Linked DNA regions of Homo sapiens: regions 1, 3 and 4 are each linked to region 2. The links come from fine-mapping of genetic effects on plasma protein levels. Region 2 holds a variant in brackets. A gene starts in each other region. All regions are shown on their forward strands. Region 1 holds the start of INSR (insulin receptor). Region 2 overlaps APOH (apolipoprotein H). Region 3 holds the start of IL18R1 (interleukin 18 receptor 1). Region 4 holds the start of HSD11B1 (hydroxysteroid 11-beta dehydrogenase 1).

What was found. A credible set is the group of variants that fine-mapping cannot tell apart. PIP is the chance, under the fine-mapping model, that this variant and not a neighbour inherited with it causes the effect. The UK Biobank Pharma Proteomics Project read protein levels with antibody pairs (Olink). The fine-mapping took linkage between variants from a reference panel, not from the people measured, so its PIPs are less certain.
Region 1: INSR starts here. The variant in region 2 is the best candidate, but not a certain one, in a credible set for the plasma level of the INSR protein (UK Biobank, PIP 0.53).
Region 3: IL18R1 starts here. The variant in region 2 is the best candidate, but not a certain one, in a credible set for the plasma level of the IL18R1 protein (UK Biobank, PIP 0.59).
Region 4: it holds the start of HSD11B1, and the variant in region 2 is the best candidate, but not a certain one, in a credible set for the plasma level of the HSD11B1 protein (UK Biobank, PIP 0.90).

The regions. Positions count from the first base shown.
Region 1 is chr19:7,292,521-7,296,741 of GRCh38, forward strand. INSR (insulin receptor) reads right to left here and starts at 1,894. Exons shown (of 22, transcript NM_000208.4): 1 at 1,272-1,894. The coding sequence starts at 1,371. RefSeq lists an enhancer at 336-1,094 and silencers at 1,076-1,135, 1,186-1,325, 1,466-1,745, 1,766-2,155, 2,296-2,475.
Region 2 is chr17:66,212,447-66,216,446 of GRCh38, forward strand. It overlaps APOH (apolipoprotein H), which reads right to left. Exons shown (of 8, transcript NM_000042.3): 7 at 2,007-2,204. Among named protein-coding and RNA genes, the nearest start is that of APOH, 15 kb to the right of the region's middle. The variant A/C (reference allele first, on the strand shown) is at 2,016.
Region 3 is chr2:102,354,124-102,358,123 of GRCh38, forward strand. IL18R1 (interleukin 18 receptor 1) reads left to right here and starts at 1,673. Exons shown (of 11, transcript NM_003855.5): 1 at 1,673-2,277. RefSeq lists an enhancer at 1,442-1,943 and silencers at 1,538-1,647, 1,668-1,727.
Region 4 is chr1:209,702,369-209,706,630 of GRCh38, forward strand. HSD11B1 (hydroxysteroid 11-beta dehydrogenase 1) reads left to right here and starts at 2,478. Exons shown (of 6, transcript NM_005525.4): 1 at 2,478-2,662; 2 at 3,443-3,573. The coding sequence starts at 2,575. The region is part of intron 1 of HSD11B1-AS1 (HSD11B1 antisense RNA 1); the gene reads right to left.

The sequences.
Region 1 (4,221 bases), not on the chromosome of region 2:
ACTCAGCAAACCCGGTTGGTCCACTCTAGCACCTGATTTTACATGCACCCGTTTCCCCATCAATACATTTAAGAGCTTCAATTCCTTCCCTCCCTGACCCCTTCCTCATCACGACTGATTTCCTTTTATGGAGAAATCTGAAACAGTAACCCAACAGATATTTTTAAAGCAGGGCCTCAGACCCCACAGTGGGAAACCCAGGCTATATTCCTTAAATGATTGCGCCATCTTCATCTTACAACCCCAAAGGTGCCTATTGTCAAGCCCAAGGAAGATGCTGCCCACACGTGGGAGAGGGGCCCATGGGGTCAGGGGGAACGAAAGGCTCACTCAAGGTCAAAGGCTCCTTCATGAAGCGCAGGGCTGAGGGGAGAGGAGGGGTCAAGGAGACAGCAGACAAGGGACAGTAGTCCAGATTCTTGGGCAGAACGGGACACACAGAGGCTCAAGTCCTGGCTCTGGCACTGACTTTAGGGCAAGGGAGTTATGCGTCCTACATGAGCCTCAGTTTACTCCTCTGTGAAATGGGTGCATAACTGTATCTGCCTCCGGGGGCCACTGTGACAGTCCAGAGAGATAAGATAGACTAGGCTGTGGCGTGCGGTGATACCAATTACAATAAATAGGGTAAAAAACCGCCACTACTTCTGCTACAATTGCTGCTGTTGCTAAGGCTTTAGAATTTGCCTCCGGACATCTGGAAACAGAACCCAAAAGGGTAAACATGGACCTAGAGTCCGGGGTGGCCACGGGCCTAGATCCAAGGTAGTTGGGTAGAGGGGGGCTCTGCAGTCCCTGACCCCAGGCAGCGTCACCCACCGGTGAGGCACTCAGGGCGCTTGGCTCTACCTACACCATATGCGCTCGGGGGACTTGGCTGTTCGGGGCTGTCCAGACCCAGTGACCCCACTTCCCGGCCGCGACCCAAAGATGACGCGTGTCGTGTCTCCGGAGCGACTTGGGCTCGGAGGGGCCGGGGCACGGGTCGGAGGCGCGCTCCAGAGAGGAGCCCGCGGCGGGGCGGGCACCGGGGCAAGGTTCCTCGGGCTCAGGTCGGGCACGCAGGGCGCGGAGGCGCGAGCCCGGGCGGGCAAAGGCCAAGGTCAGAGGCTTCCCGCTCCCCCTACGCGATGCAGGAGCTACCGTCCTGGCCACCGCCCCCCGCCCCTGGGGAGGGTTCTCAGTCCACAAGCGGGGGCTCGATTTTGGCTTGGGTGGGGTCCTCTCCCCATCGCGGCGCTCCCCGCCCACGCCCGCGCCCCCAGACTCACCCTCTCCGGGGTACAGGTGGCCCGCGGCGCCCAGTAGCAGCGCGGCCACCGCCACCAGCAGCGGCGCGGCCGCCGCCCCCCGCCGGCCCCCGGTGGCCATGGCTGCGGGAGCGCGGGGTCTCCTCGGATCAGAGCGCGCGGCGCTGGCCCGCGGGGGTCATGCTCCGAGGCGGCCACCCAAGAGGCGCTGGGGGCCGCGCGTCCTTCTCTTCCACGCCCGCGACCCGCGGGCCGCAGCCCCCCTGCCGGGGAGGGCCCAGAGGCAGCCCCGGGAAGGGCGCGCGCGGCTTCGCCAGCTACAAATACTGAGCGGAGGCCCTTGCGGTGGTGGCCCCGACCCCCCGGCCGCTGCGGCCCGGGCCCCGTCCCAGGATCTCGGGGCCCGGAGCTCCGCGCTGCGCCCGGGACTGTCTCTCGGCTCTCGGCCCCGCGCGCTCTGGGTCGCGATCTGCGGGCTCCGGGACAGAGGGACGCGCGGACCGACGGACTAGCTGACTGGCGGGCGGGCACCTGGGCTGGCGGGTGGCGGGCGGGCGGCGGGAGAGAGGGCTGCTCGGGCCCGTAAACAACGCGGCCCGTCAGCTGGGCCCCGTGCGGGCCGCGGGAAAAGGCGGCGCGGATCTGGCCTAGGAAGGGACTCTGCGCCCGGGAGAGGCCCAGGAGAGGGAGGGAAAGCTTGCAGGGGAGGGAGGTGCCGCCCGGCCCCGCCCCGCCCCGCCCGCCTCCCCGCCTCCCTGTGCCGGGCCCCGCGCGGGAGGCCCTGGGCGCGCCGGGACCGAGGGCGCGCCCCAGATCCGCGCGCCCTACAGCCCCGAGTCTCCTCCAGTTTCAGACCCCCGGAGGCGCCCCACAGGCCCGACGCAGCGGCACAGATCCTTTCTCTACCATTTTGCTATTTTGTTCATAGTGGGCTTTGGAGGATTCCTGTTGATTTTTTAAAAAATACTGCATTAAAATGTTTATTTTGGTGACTCGAGGTGGTTTTGGTTTCTTTCTTTTTTTTTTTTTTTCACTCCCTTAAATTTTGCACCCCAGGCGAGTAGTGTCTCACTCGCCTTTCCTCAGTCCGGGCCTGGCCAGCGACACTCGTCCCAGAGCGCGTGGGCGCCCCCAGATGTCCCGCCCGCGAGTGCGCCCCGGCCCAGGGGCGAGACCCAAGCCAGGCCCCTGGGGACAGCCACGTGCCCGCGTGCCCAGTGCGCTCCCTGTGTTCAAGTTGGAGAAATGACACCTGGAAAAATGTGCAGACGCTTCTGAAAGGGCAAAGACGACGCCAAAGAAGACGCCGGAGACCTCGAATAGGGCGCAGGTGGACATCTCTGATTTTCAGCAGACCAGCCTGTATGTGTCTGAAGTCTAGCAACGACATTCACCAACAAGGCGGGACAGCGGTTCCACCTACCTTACTGCAGGAGAGGAAGGGGCTTTCAGTATAGGAAAGCCAGAACTCAATGGGAGGAGGGTTCCTCCACCCCTCACTCCTGTGTGGTCTTGGACCAGGGACTTTTCTGTCTCTGGGCCAGTTTCACTTGTGTAATGGGTTTAATAATACCTGCATGCCAGTTCTGGGGAGGTACCCGGGAAAGAAAACTTAAGAAAGCGCCCAGCACAACCCTAGACCCAAGGCATTCATTCTTCTTTCATTCAATAAACAGTTTGCTAGGAGCTGGACCCACTGTTCATGCAACAGGCCAAACCTATTCCTGCCTCTGGGCCTTTGCCCCAGCATTTCCCTTGCCCGTAACACTCCAGGATGGCTTCATCTCTGAAGTGCCATCCCTAACCATATTTTTGCAAATCCTCCCCCCAGTTCCGTTTCCTTCTCTCTCTCTCTCTCTCTGTTTTTTTTTTTTTTTTTTTTTTTTTTTTTTTTTTTTTTTTTTTAGATGGAGTTTTTCTCTGTTGCCCAGGCTGGAGTGCAATGGCCAGATCTCAGTTCACTGCAACATCACCTGCCTGGGTTCAAGTGATTCTCCTGCCTCAACCTCCCAAGTAACTTGGATTACAGGCATGCGCCAGCACACCCAGCTAATTTTCTGTATTTTTAGTAGAGACAGGATTTCACCATGTTGGCCTGGCCGGTCTCAAACTCCTGACCTCAGGTGATCCACCGGCCTTGGCCTCCCAAAGTGCTGGGATTACAGGCCTGAGCCACTGCGCCTGGCCCCTTCTCTCTCATTTTCATAGCATGTTTACCCCACTACCTGCAATTGTTTGTTTTTTTTTTTTCTTTTCTTTCTTTTTTTTTCCTTTTGACAGAATCTTGCTGTCACCCAGGCAGGAATGCAGTGGTGCAATCCTAGCTTACTGCAGCCTTGAACTCCTGGCCTCAAGCAATCCTCCTGCCTTGGCCTCCCAAGGTGCTAGGATTACAGGCATGCGCCACCATGATTGGCCTTGAAATTCTTATTCGTTTTCTGTGTCTTCTCCCCTTCCCGTGAAGGCGGAAATCTTTTCGGTCTTGTTTCACTGCTTAAACCCAGTGCCTGACAAATCTGTTGCTTAATAAATATTTGTTGAGTGGGAGAATCAACAAGCAATAAGTAATAGGGGATTTTTCAGTGAGCAAAATAAACATGACCCATTTCCTTATGGAGTTCACAACTGAGCCAGGGAGAGAGCCCTTAAAATAATTGAGTGTGTAATGAGCTGAGGGAAATGGGAGGTGCATAGGGAGGGGTTTGCTGAGGACATGGGGTTTTTTGTTTGTTTGTTTTTTGATGGATCTTACTCTGTTGCCCAGGCTGGAGTGCAGTGGCACGATCTTGGCTCACTGCAACCTCCGCCTCCCAGGTTCAAGCAATTCTCCTGCCTCAGCCTCCAGAGTAGCTGGGATTACAGGTGCATGCCACCACGCCTGCCTAATTTTTGTATTTTTAGTAGAGGCAGGGTTTCACCATATTGGACAGGCTGGTCTTGAACTCCTGACCTCAAGAGATCTGCCTGTCTC
Region 2 (4,000 bases):
CAATCTCAGCTCACTGCAACCTCTACCTCCCAGGTTCAAGTGATTCTCCTGTCTCAGCCTCCCGAGTAGCTGGGACTACAGGCACGTGCCACCATGCCTGGCTAATCTTTGTATTTTTAGTAGAGACTGGGTTTCACCATGTTGGCCAGGCTGGCCTCCTGACCTCAAGTGATCCGCCCGCCTTGGCCTCCCAAAGTGCTGGGATTACAAGTGTGAGCCACTGCGCCTGGCCAAGATCCTCATTTTCAAGAGATAAAATTAAAGGTTCTATATACAGTGAAGACTGTTCTATAACAGTCAAGATTAAAGGGGAAAAAACAGTATCGGCCCTTTACAGTACTGCATCTGTCCAAAGACCATAAGGGAGAAGATCCTGAAGAAATATATCAACAAAGCTAAGACTTTTTTCAATTATTCTTTTCTCACATTTTTTCTACTGATTTTTATTTAAGCTTATTGTATTTTGTCATGTTTTGTATTTAACATCTCACCAGGGCTCTGCTGTCTTTTGAATAATGGCAATTTATTCAGTGCATTTGTAACTATTTACAATTAAAATTATATTCCTCCATGTCATGCATATTTCTAATAATCAAACCAACCCCATGAGGTGGGTATTTTTAATCAGTTATCATTCCCTTCTCTCCCACTAGCTGGACACTTCTCAGACTCCTCTCTTCTTAGCTTTGTCTGCTCCCTACTGTCCTCTCCCACCTGCTAAAACAAGATTGTCAATGTTTTTGAAAGATTTCTAAACCTAGAGCCAAGGACAGCTTCAGCCTCTGGCTGGTTCTTACTTTCTGGCATCAGAGACATTTCAACCCTAAATCTGAAACCTTAAAAGGTTAGCAGCTCTAAACGCTGGCCATTACACACTTCTTTATCTCACACAAACCTGGTATCATTCTCCTTAAAATATTTTGCTCTAATGGATACTTTGCTCTAATGGATACTTTTCAAACTCTACGAATTGCTTGAGAAAGGGGAAATGTTAGATCTTTAGACCAATTATCATTGCCATGAGTTGTTTTGTCACTTGGGGTGAGTTCTCTATAATGTGGGACCAAGATGAGGTAGATATTTTATTATTCAATATTTGGTTCATTATTATTCAAGCTCAACTTGGAATTATACAAGATGGCATCATTCACCTCAGCATTCATTGAATATAACCACAACCCTGAGTTTTACAGAAAAGACTTAGAAAAGAGGCTGGGCGCGTAGCTCATGCCTGTAATCCTGGCACTTTGGGAGACTGAGACAGGTGGATTGCTTGAGTCCAAGGGTTCAAAACCAGCCTTGGCAACATGGCATAATCTCTTCTCTAATAAAAATATAAAAAATAGCTGGACATGGTGGTGCGTGCATGTAATCTCAGCTACTCAGAAGGCTGAGGTGAAAGGGTCACTTGAGCCCAGAAAGTAGAGGCTGCAATGAGATGTGATCGCAACACTGCACTTCAGCCTGGGTGACAGTGAGACCTTGTCTCAAAAAAAAAAAAAATTGGAAAGGAAAATGCAAGTGGGGACGCCATCTGCAGCTCACTGCTTCATATCATTGTTTCTCCCTCTCACCCCTCTTTTTAAAAACCCAGTGGCCAAATTCATCTGTGTTTTGTTTGTTTTTGTTTTGAGACGGAGTTTCGCTCTGTTGCCCAGGCTGGAGTGCAATGGCGCGATCTCGGCTCACTGCAACCTCCACCTCCCAGGTTCAAGTGATGCTCCTGCCTCAGCCTCCCAAGTAGCTGCGATTACAGGCACCCGGCACCACAGCAATTAATTTTTGTATTTTTAGTAGAGACAGACTTTCACCTTTTTGGCCAGGCTGCTCTCAAACTCGTGACCTCAGGTGATCCACCCGCCTCAGCCTCCCAAAGTGCTGGGATTACAGGCGTGACCCACCGCACCTGGCCTCATCTGGTTTTTGACAATCATTATAGAACAAAGGCTCTGATTATGATGACGGGCAAGTGGGAGTCCTAGCTAAACGTTCCAATGCAGACTTACCCTTGAAGC[A/C]TTTGGGGACTTCGATAGTGCCATCTATACACTGAGCATCCTCTGTATAGCTACACTTCTTTTCCTTATTTTTGCAGAAGAAAGAAACTTTATCACCATGTAGCATTCCATTCTTAAATTTTTCCTGAATCTTTACTCTCTCTCCTTGGTACACCACAGTGGCTTTTTTCACAGGTACTTTACAAGATGCTGAAAGAGAGAATACTTGTAATCAGGACTTAAGAGTTCAGGAAGTCTTTCTGAAAGAGAGTATAGCATTTGAAACAGTAGATGAGTACACCTACACAAATTGGTCAAGGCAAGAAAAATCCAAGAATATATATAGTAAGTAATGGTAATATGATTGCTAATTGCAGTTCTCTGTCAATAGAACCATTATTCATAGCTTCCAAGATGGCCTTCTCTTCCCCTACAGTAGCCACAGAAGGTCAGAACAGAAGCATCAGAGCCTCCATTTCAGTGAAAAAAAAAAAAAAAAGCAACTAACAGATATTGACATTTCATGTAAGCCTACTCTGCCCTCTCAGATTGCATTCATTAAGCAGGTGCATCTATCCACCAGCCATTGTGAGTGTTGGCTGATAACAGCTCATAAATACTCTGAAAAATTGCCTTCAGCCATAGGGAAGCCACCTCTCCCAGGAGTTTATGCAAACCACCCCCAGGGTCAGGGAAGGGAGCAGCTCAAAGCCAAAGACTGACTGATGAGGGAATATAAAAAGCAGGTCCCCTTGGCTCTTAGTGGGATTAACTCAAGGGTGGAATTCACACTCCAGAGCTCCCAGTGGGATCAAACTGAACCTCATTTTAGCAGAGACCACATTTCTCCCTGGCTCGGCAGCATTAGCATCACCAGGGAACCTGGCATAAATGCAAATTGTCAGGCCCCATCCCAGATCTACCAAATCAGAAACTCTAAGAGTGGAGCTCAAAAATCCTGTGTTAAAACAAGCCTTCCAGGTGTTGCTGATCCACAGCGAAGTTTGAGAACCGGTGCCTTACCCTCGCAAATCTGCCTCACTCTTTCTTCTCCTGAGACATTCACTAAATCAACTGTACTCGAATCCCCGTCTCAGGCTCTGCTTCTAGGGAACTGTAACCTAAGATGCTAGTTATTTGTCATCTTGCCTGCTGCCCCAGAGTTCCTCTTTCTGCTTAAACTGTCCAGCCCATAGTGACCTGAGCAGAGTTCTAATGCTAGGCTGTTGTTGTTCTTTACTTATGCATGACACTGATGGGATCAAGGGTAGACACCTAACTCAAAAGGAACCAGTGTCTCCAGGAAAGATGCCAGTTGGTGATGAATCCTGTAACTGAGAGGGTCTGGTGTATATCAAGCCATGTTCAAGATGAATAAGCAGAGAGACGGAAATGGGAGAGACCATTGAGATACGGAAAAAGTAGGAATAGTTCCTGCCTTTCAGTTCCAATCTTCAGGAGTATCAGTTGTATTTCATGTCTTCATCTTCAATGCCCACATGATCGACTTGCCTGTTGCCTCCTTATAATATCCCCAATTTCCTTGAACTCACTCGAATGTGTGGTTGGTTTTTGCAATGAGAAGAGCCTTGGCTAGACAGAGCACAAAAAGGGGTGGGCATGGTGGCTCACATCTGTAATCACTCGAACCTGGGAGGTGAAGGTTGCAGGGAACTGAGATTCTACCATTACACTCCAGCTAGGCAACAGAGTGAGACTCCATCTCAAAAAAAAAAAAAAAGACTCCATGTGTCTACAATAATACTAAAAAATGATGGATGGAAGAAAAGCTCTTCTCTACAGAGGCCGAGGCGGGCGGATCACCTGAGGTCAGGAGTTCGAAATTAGCCTGGCCAACGTGGCAAAGCCCCATCTCTATTAAAAATACAAAAATTAGCCAGGTGTGGTGGTGGGGTGCCTGTAATCCCAGCTACTCGGGAGGCTGAGGTAGGAGAATTGCTTGAACCCGGGAGGCAGAGGTGGCAGTGAGCCGAGATCACGCCATT
Region 3 (4,000 bases), not on the chromosome of region 2:
TTGTATGTTTGTATGTTTCTGTGAATATCACATTGCCATAATTACTATTGCCTTATTATAAATCCTCAAGTCAGTATAAGTCTCTCAACTTTGTTCATCTTTGTCAAGATTGCCCAGACAGGCCGGGCAGGTGGCTCACCCCTGTAATTTCAACACTTTGGGAGGCTGAAATGGGTGGATCACCTGAGGTCGAGAGTTCAAAACCAGCCTGACCAACACGGAGAAACCCTGTCTCTACTAAAAATACAAAAGTAGCCAGGCGTGATAGTGCATGCCTGTAATCCCAGCTACTCGGGCGGCTGAGGCAGGAGAATCGCTTGAACCCGGGAGGCGGAGGTTGCAGTGAGCCGAGATCGCGTCATTGCACTCACTCCAGCCTGGGCAAGAAGAGCAAAACTCCGTCTCTGTCCGGACAATCCTAGATTATTTGCATTTTCATATGAATTTTAGAAACAGCTTCTTAATTTCTTTGAAAAATTTTCCTGGGATTTGGATTGAATTGTATTAAATATATAGATTCTGTAATATATAGAGTCTAAAAATATACAGTGTGGAGAATAGATGTCTTAAGTCTTCCAATCCGTAAACGTGGTATATCCCTTTATTACTTAGATGTTTCATCTCTGTTAGCAATATTTTGTAGTTTTCACAGGAGATATCTCATATATTATCCAATGAATTTATACTTTGGTATTTTGATTTTTAAATGCTATGGTAAATGGCATTTTTAACAAACTTCACTTTTCAAGTTTCCATCTCTAATATATAGAATTGCTATTGATTTTTATATTCCATGATCTTGATAAACTTAATATTTCCAGTAGTTTTTTTTTTTGTAGATTTCAAAAGTTGGTCTACATATAATTATGCTCTCTGTTAAAACCAGTAGTTTTAATTCTTTCTTCTCAATCTTTATGCTTTCTAATTTTATTTTTATTTCTTCACTTGTTGCAAAGCAGTTGTCCCAGGTGGGAGCCAAAATCCTTATCTCATTACTAATCTTAGGAAAAAGTAAAATGTTTCACTATTATGAGGTCACCTGTAGGTTTCTTATAGATGTTCTTTATCAGATTAAGAAAGATCATTTCTACTCTCGGTTTTCTGATCGTTATTAATTCAGAAAGGGTGTTGAATTTTGCCAGATGCTTTTATTTGCATTTATTGAGATAATTACATATTTTTATTTATTATGTGGTGAATTATCTAAATTGGGTAAAAAGAATTAAAATCATTGTCCAATTGAACATTTTGCCTGTCGGCTATGGGTTTCCCTTTTCCTTTGGTTAAATAACAGTTCTGCCACAAAATAAAAATCTAGAAACACACATTCCCCTTTGGCCTCCTTAAAAAAAATTAAAACTTCAACAATTGCACCCCTCTCTATTACTTCCCTATAGTGAACTCCCATCCTTCTGGGAAAGCAAAAAGCCTGGGGCGCATTTGTGTACTTGAGACGCGGAGCCCCTCTCACCTTCGGCATCCCCCGGGGACCCCTCTTCCACCCTCAGCCCTCCCCTCCTCTTCCTCTGAAGAGCCGGGCGGCCGCTGCGGCCAGCGGTCCTCCCTCCTGGCATCCTCTGCTGTGAACCGCGGCCTGCAGGGTGCTTGCGAGCGGCCCGGGCGCGCCCCCTTCCGGCCCCGCAGGTCACCCGGCTACAGCCCGGGTTTTCCCGGGACCCGCGCCGCGCGGCTGGGCAGGAAGCGCCAGACGCCTGGGGCCCACGCCGTCCGCGGGAAAAGGGCAAGGCGCTGGGTTTTCCAGCAGCAACCTTTGGACCCCGCGATCCAGTAGCTCCGGTAACTCCACGCGGGGCGTCTGGGTGGAGGAGCCGGTCCTGGAGCACGGCTGCGAGGAGCACCCGGACCGGAGGGTCCCCAGACCGGGACCTCCGAGTCAGGGAGGATTCTACGCCAGGGAGCGCCCCAGACTGAGAGCGCCCCAGACCGCTACACTCCCGGACCCGGAGCTTCGCCCGACCGCGGGCAGTGCCCACCTGCAGCCTCCACCGGCCGGGGTTAGCAGCCAGGAGCTGCCAGACGCCTGACATTCTTCTTTCTGTTCCTACTTTTTTTCCTTCTTCTTCTTTTTTTTTTTTTTTGTAGCCCTCTCTGGGTGCCTTATCTCTTTAATCACACCTCTCTTTCACTTTCCACGGTAGTCAGGAGGCGGAGATCGCTGCTTCTCACCTACTTTCTGAACTTGGCCTCCGCAGTCGCGACCTGGCGTGAAGGAGGAGCTGCCGCCCCCGCCCCAGCCTCGGGGACGCCTCTCTGAAGGTAAGGGTGGGCTCCGCTGCCACCCGCATCCCCTCCCCACCCCCCAGAGGAAGGGAAGACCACCATCCGGGGAGGGATTCTCAAAACAAGATCAATTAAGAGAGAGAGAGAGATAGTGTGTGTGTGAATACGTGTGAATAATTGATGAGACAGCATCCTGTCTTTCTCTGAAAGTATAGTTTTAGAAATTAAGACATCCCCAATTATTTTCTGGAGAGGTGAGAACGACTGAAATAAATGATAACAATAGTTGTCATTTTTTAAGTGCTTACTGTGTGCCTGACACTGTAGAAAATTTTTAGATATCTTATTTTCACTTAATCCTCCTAAGGGCCACATGAAATAGGAACTATTATTATGCTTTAATAAAAGGGAGGAGGAATTCCGTCATTTACCCAAGAGTATCCAGCTACTAAGTAGTAGATCCCAGATCCACACCTACAGTTTTTCTGATTCCAGAGCCTTTGTCTTTTTTCTGCCCAGCCTTGGGAAGTTAAAATGCCCAGCACCTTGCATCGCAGTTATCAGACAAATTAATGAGGTGTCAATTGCAGCCAGATACAGAGATCCAAGATTATTGTATTCATTTCACTGACTTCCCTTGCTTCATTCTCAAGACCCTTTGCAAATACTGATTTTGTGTCATACACAGTGCTGCTATTGGGAGCACACCTCTCAACCTCAGGGCCTTGGATGGGCTAGGAGGGGTAAATTTGGGGAATTGGGTTTGTGCAGGTTCTGGGGACAGTGTTTTCCCTCTCCCTGCACAAATATACATCCAAAGGCTGAGAACTAAGGCTAAGGCCTAGGAATGTGGATTGAAAAGGCAGGGTCTAAATCCCAGCACTTGGGAGGCTGAGGTGGGCGGATCATGAGGTCAGGAGATCGAGACCATCCTGGCTAACATGGTGAAACCCCGTCTCTACTAAAAATACAGAAAATTAGCCAGGCATGGTGGCATGCATCTGTAATCCCAGCTACTCGGGAGGCTGAGGCAGGAGAATCCCTTGAACCTGGGAGGCAGAGGTTGCAGTGAGCAGAGATTGTGCCACTGCACTCCAGCCTGGGCGACAGAGTGAGACTCTATCTCAAAAAAAAAAAAGAAAAAAAAGAAAAGGCAGGGTCCCTGCCTTCAGGGACCTCACCAGAGAGTGGGAGCTAGTCCAGGAGTGATGGAAACACCTGCAGAGTGATGGAGACGGGCTTGGACATAGGCATGTGCCATTTGGGGCTGTTGCAGTTGGAGAGCTTCCTTGAGAAGGCAAATACTGAGCCAAGTTGAAAGGACTCTAGGGACCTGGCATCTGGGATAAGTGGGGAGGGTGGCCCAGGTAGCACAGGCATAGGCAGATTTGGGGGGAAGCATAAGGCTAACAACAGACACTTGTGTGACAAGGACTATGAGGTGGCATTGATTTTCTTGGCCTTACAGATGAGAAGCCAGATTCCACACAAATTATTTTGTTTGTTAGAGTTTAAGCGTGTGTGTGTGTGTGTATGTTATGCCCCAAGATCATTTTCTCCTCTTTGCATTTGGTTGTTTTATCATCTCACAGGCTGAGTAAAACGACTATGCATGGAACACTGTAGAAGAAAAATTATATTAAAAAAAAACTGGTGTTATGATTTTCATCCAGGCATTTTGTCTCAGGAGTTGCTCGATTGTATGTGTTGCTAATGAGTGATTTATATTGAGGCATCTACATTGATTCATGTGTGTCCT
Region 4 (4,262 bases), not on the chromosome of region 2:
GGGAAATGGAAAGAGACAAAGATGAAAAAGACATAATCTATGTCCTCCAGGAGTTTACAAGCTAATGAGAGAACCAGCCATGTAAATATGGACACAAAGTGGATTAGATGTTTATTATATAATATGGTCAAAGTGTGGTCCCCATGGGTCTCTGAGACCCTCTTGAAGGGTTGAAAGGTCAAAACTATTTTCATAATTATACTAAGACATTACCTGACTTTTCCAGAGGCTACAGGATGTATGCTAATGCCACTGCCCTGAATGCTAATGGAATGTATGCTTATGTATTCTTGAGCTTTAGAAAAAAATCCTCAGTCTTAATTTCTAATGCATAAATTGCAATAGCAATATCAATAGGTAAAACCTACACAGGCAAAAGTTCTTTGAGGTCCTTGGAAATTATTAAGAGTATACAAGGGTCCTGAGACCAAAAATTTGAGAACTGGTAAGATTTAATGCATCAACTACCATTACACAGTGTCCTTGTTTCTCATCAATGCATTTTATATAGCAATTATTTTATCTAATCCCATGAAACTCACTTTATTGGATGCTTTTGCCATATCCTTATTTTCTAGCATCGTAGCTATTAGGTCATCTAATTATTAATCTGTTTGTGTCTTTGGGTTTAAATGTGTCTTTTGAGGCCACACAATGTTGGACTTCATTTTTTAATGGAGCCAACAATCAGCAATTGTTAATGCATTTGCTTTGTGTTCTATTACTCTGCAGTTTATCTTACTCATTGTTATTTTTGCTTTCTTTAAATTTATGTTTTCTTAATGGACTTTAAAATTCTTTATTTATTTTTTATGTCAGACAATAAACATCCCTAGTCTGCCCATCTTTCTATCATTTCAACATCATCATATTTCCAAATAACTTTTCATTGTTTCCTATAATTTTACTATTAATAGTATAGGATTAAGAAAATAAACCTTATCTGGGTTCTGGCTGGCACTGCCTTCCCTCTAGGGATGAAAATGGAGTGTAGTCTGTAATATATCCTGGTATCATAAATATATTTATAAAATTATACAAATGTAGCTTGCAGTTCTAAAGGCATGTAATCTAATTTTTACTTGAATTTTATCTTTTTTCTCTTTTTGTCCTTCATAGACCTCGAGCTCTGTCTAGCCCTCAACTGTTCTCAAATCTCCATTGTTTTCTACAAGTGACCCTCACAGCTGTGGGCCTTTGTTGACAAATTGTTTCATCTCCTCTGGGTCTTAAATTATTTTCTCTTACTCTAAAGTGAAAATTTGATGAATGTTTCCAGATACTGCACTTGGAATCATAACTTAATTTCCCTTAACCTTGTGTAAATTCTGTCCCCCCACTACTCCCAACTCCTATCCCTCCTCCAAAGCACTGATACTTATTATCACATTTAAATTTTTTCCCCGCTCTACTGATAACTTACAGAATGCAGGACTGCATTGTGATGGGGTAATTTCCATGAGTTGATTGGTTGGTTTTGAGTTGAAAAACTTAACAATGATACATCTTAAATTCTTTCTTTGAGGATTATTCCTTAATGAATTCGTGCTACGGACATACTGAGGTGGTTATTTTTATATTTCCCTGATAATAAATTCTAAATTGCTAAGGGTTTCTTACCACCCTCGTCCTTTTACTGTTACTAGATCTATTTTTAGCTGGTGTGGGCGTCCCCAGCTAGTTTCACTTGCCTAATGCTAGTTCTTTTTTCTTCTACATCAGGTCGCCTCTTCCTAGCATCTTCTCCATGTTTCTTGTTGCTCTACAGCATTTACAAGACCCAGTTTAATAGTTTAGTGCCTTTTTTGTCACTCATTATTTCTTCTTTGTTCTCTGTTAAAATAATAAGTGTATGATCCATTGCACTTGCCTTAGAGTCTTGAACCAGTCTTGGATTTCCCGCCATCTGGGTTCTGGCTGGCTTGCAATTTCTCCTTTGATGTTGTAATACTTTTTCATTGAACTTGAGTGTGGGGCTTATAGAGCTTCTTTGCTTTCATTATTTTTTCCCAAAATGTGCACATTTTTTTTCTTAAGCTTATTTTGCTGTTTTGTGCTGTTATTTTTAATTGCTTCCCACTGGGTGGGGGGGTAGGGGGACTGAGAGTGAGATTTGGCTTGAGTTTGGCTCTCTTTGCTATTACTCACATTTCCCCCCAGAAGCCCTACATGCACTCCTCTCTCTCTGTCTTTGACAAATTACTTTTGAAAGATCATTGATCCCTGGCGTAAATGGTGTTAAGAGTAAGATGGACTCGGGTAGGGATGCTCAGGAATCCAGTCCTGTACAGTCATGAGCTTGGCCATCTGGAAGTCTCCTCTTGCTCAATGAAATGGAGTAAACATTGTCCATTATGAAATCCACCACACAGGCTGCCAGGGACGAATGGGATCCCACCCAAAGCCAATCGCTGCTCTGACAGGGAAATTGGCTAGCACTGCCTGAGACTACTCCAGCCTCCCCCGTCCCTGATGTCACAATTCAGAGGCTGCTGCCTGCTTAGGAGGTTGTAGAAAGCTCTGTAGGTTCTCTCTGTGTGTCCTACAGGAGTCTTCAGGCCAGCTCCCTGTCGGATGGCTTTTATGAAAAAATATCTCCTCCCCATTCTGGGGCTCTTCATGGCCTACTACTACTATTCTGCAAACGAGGAATTCAGACCAGGTAAGTACCCATGCGTCTCATTTTGGAGGAATAGGTTTAAAAAACACAGGGGTGCTTGAGTGTTCCTGAGGACCAAGATGTGTTCTTGATCCTCAAAGTTGGTGAAAATGAGGGAACCCTGAGTTAAGATGGTATTTTTGTGTCCTCCAGCTACAGGCTGTGGACAGGGGGGACTGTGTAGGAAGGGTAATCGTGTAGCCAAAATCTAGCCAAATAGGCCATGCTTTATTTGGCACCCTTAATGGAAAGCAGTTTCAAATCTTCTACAAAAATGAGAGTAATACCCAAATTCACAACTCAGCAGCTAATTGGGCTCTATGAAGAGACTGATAAGTGGGAGGCAAAAAAAAAAAAAAAAAAAACTGGAGATGATGACTACATAGAAGTGAGGGAAAATCCCTGGAATTTCTATGAACACATGTGTTTTGATTCCTTGTTAAATGTACTTTCAATTGAGCAAAATTGAAAGAGTCCAGAAATGTCTGGAACTCCAGCATTTTAGCTGAACCATGACTTTTCTGGCTTCATCCTATGATCTCTTTCCATGGAGGTTTTTAGAAATGACAGTAGGGAGGCTGTCAGCCCAAACCTCCCACTTCAGAGCATGTTTATGAAAGACCTGGCCTGTTCCCACAGTGATTTACGGAGTTTGTGACAAACTGATCTGGGCTCATAACCTTTAAGTTACAAATTGCGATAAGCATGCCTATATCCAGAGAGGGAGAAGGAATTTTGCTGCCAACTTGGGTATGGTCCTCACTTCCTTTTGGGGTTCCCCAGAGATGCTCCAAGGAAAGAAAGTGATTGTCACAGGGGCCAGCAAAGGGATCGGAAGAGAGATGGCTTATCATCTGGCGAAGATGGGAGCCCATGTGGTGGTGACAGCGAGGTCAAAAGAAACTCTACAGAAGGTGAGGGTTCTATGCTCGCAGATATGTGTACCGTCACATGCTCAGATGTGTTCTTATATATGCTCACATATACACAGAAGCTAGCATATCGCAGATCTATATACAGAGGCACATGCACACACACAGACACTTAATTTTGCACTCTCATATATAGATTCAAACACCAAAAAACCCACAGGAATATAAAAGTATGCATTTAAGCATTCATTCATGTGTGTGTGTGTAATATATTCTGCAACAGAGTCCTTGAGTTATATATGCTCACAGACATGCCTAGTCACACACATTTACACATGGAACTACAGATACATACGGATGTTTTCAAAAACTGAAATCCCAGTACCTGCTTATGAATACATATCCTCATACCCATGCAGACTCCCAGACACATGCCCTCTCATGGACTCACAAACCCAAGGATGTACAAACATTCACAAACCTAGAGCTACCCACATAGTAACCAGCATCTACACTCATAATGCCCTCAGAAATGCCTATTCACAGAAGCCATGAGCATAAATCATGAACTTAAACCCCAGCACTGGGATGATTTATCCATTTGAACCCCACCAAGTTCCAGAAAATATTTCAGACAGAGGACGATGATCATGAGGGTTATATTAGGCAACACACACACAAACATACTTACCATTTCTTACCTAAACAGGGCTGTGAGCAATCTCTCATTT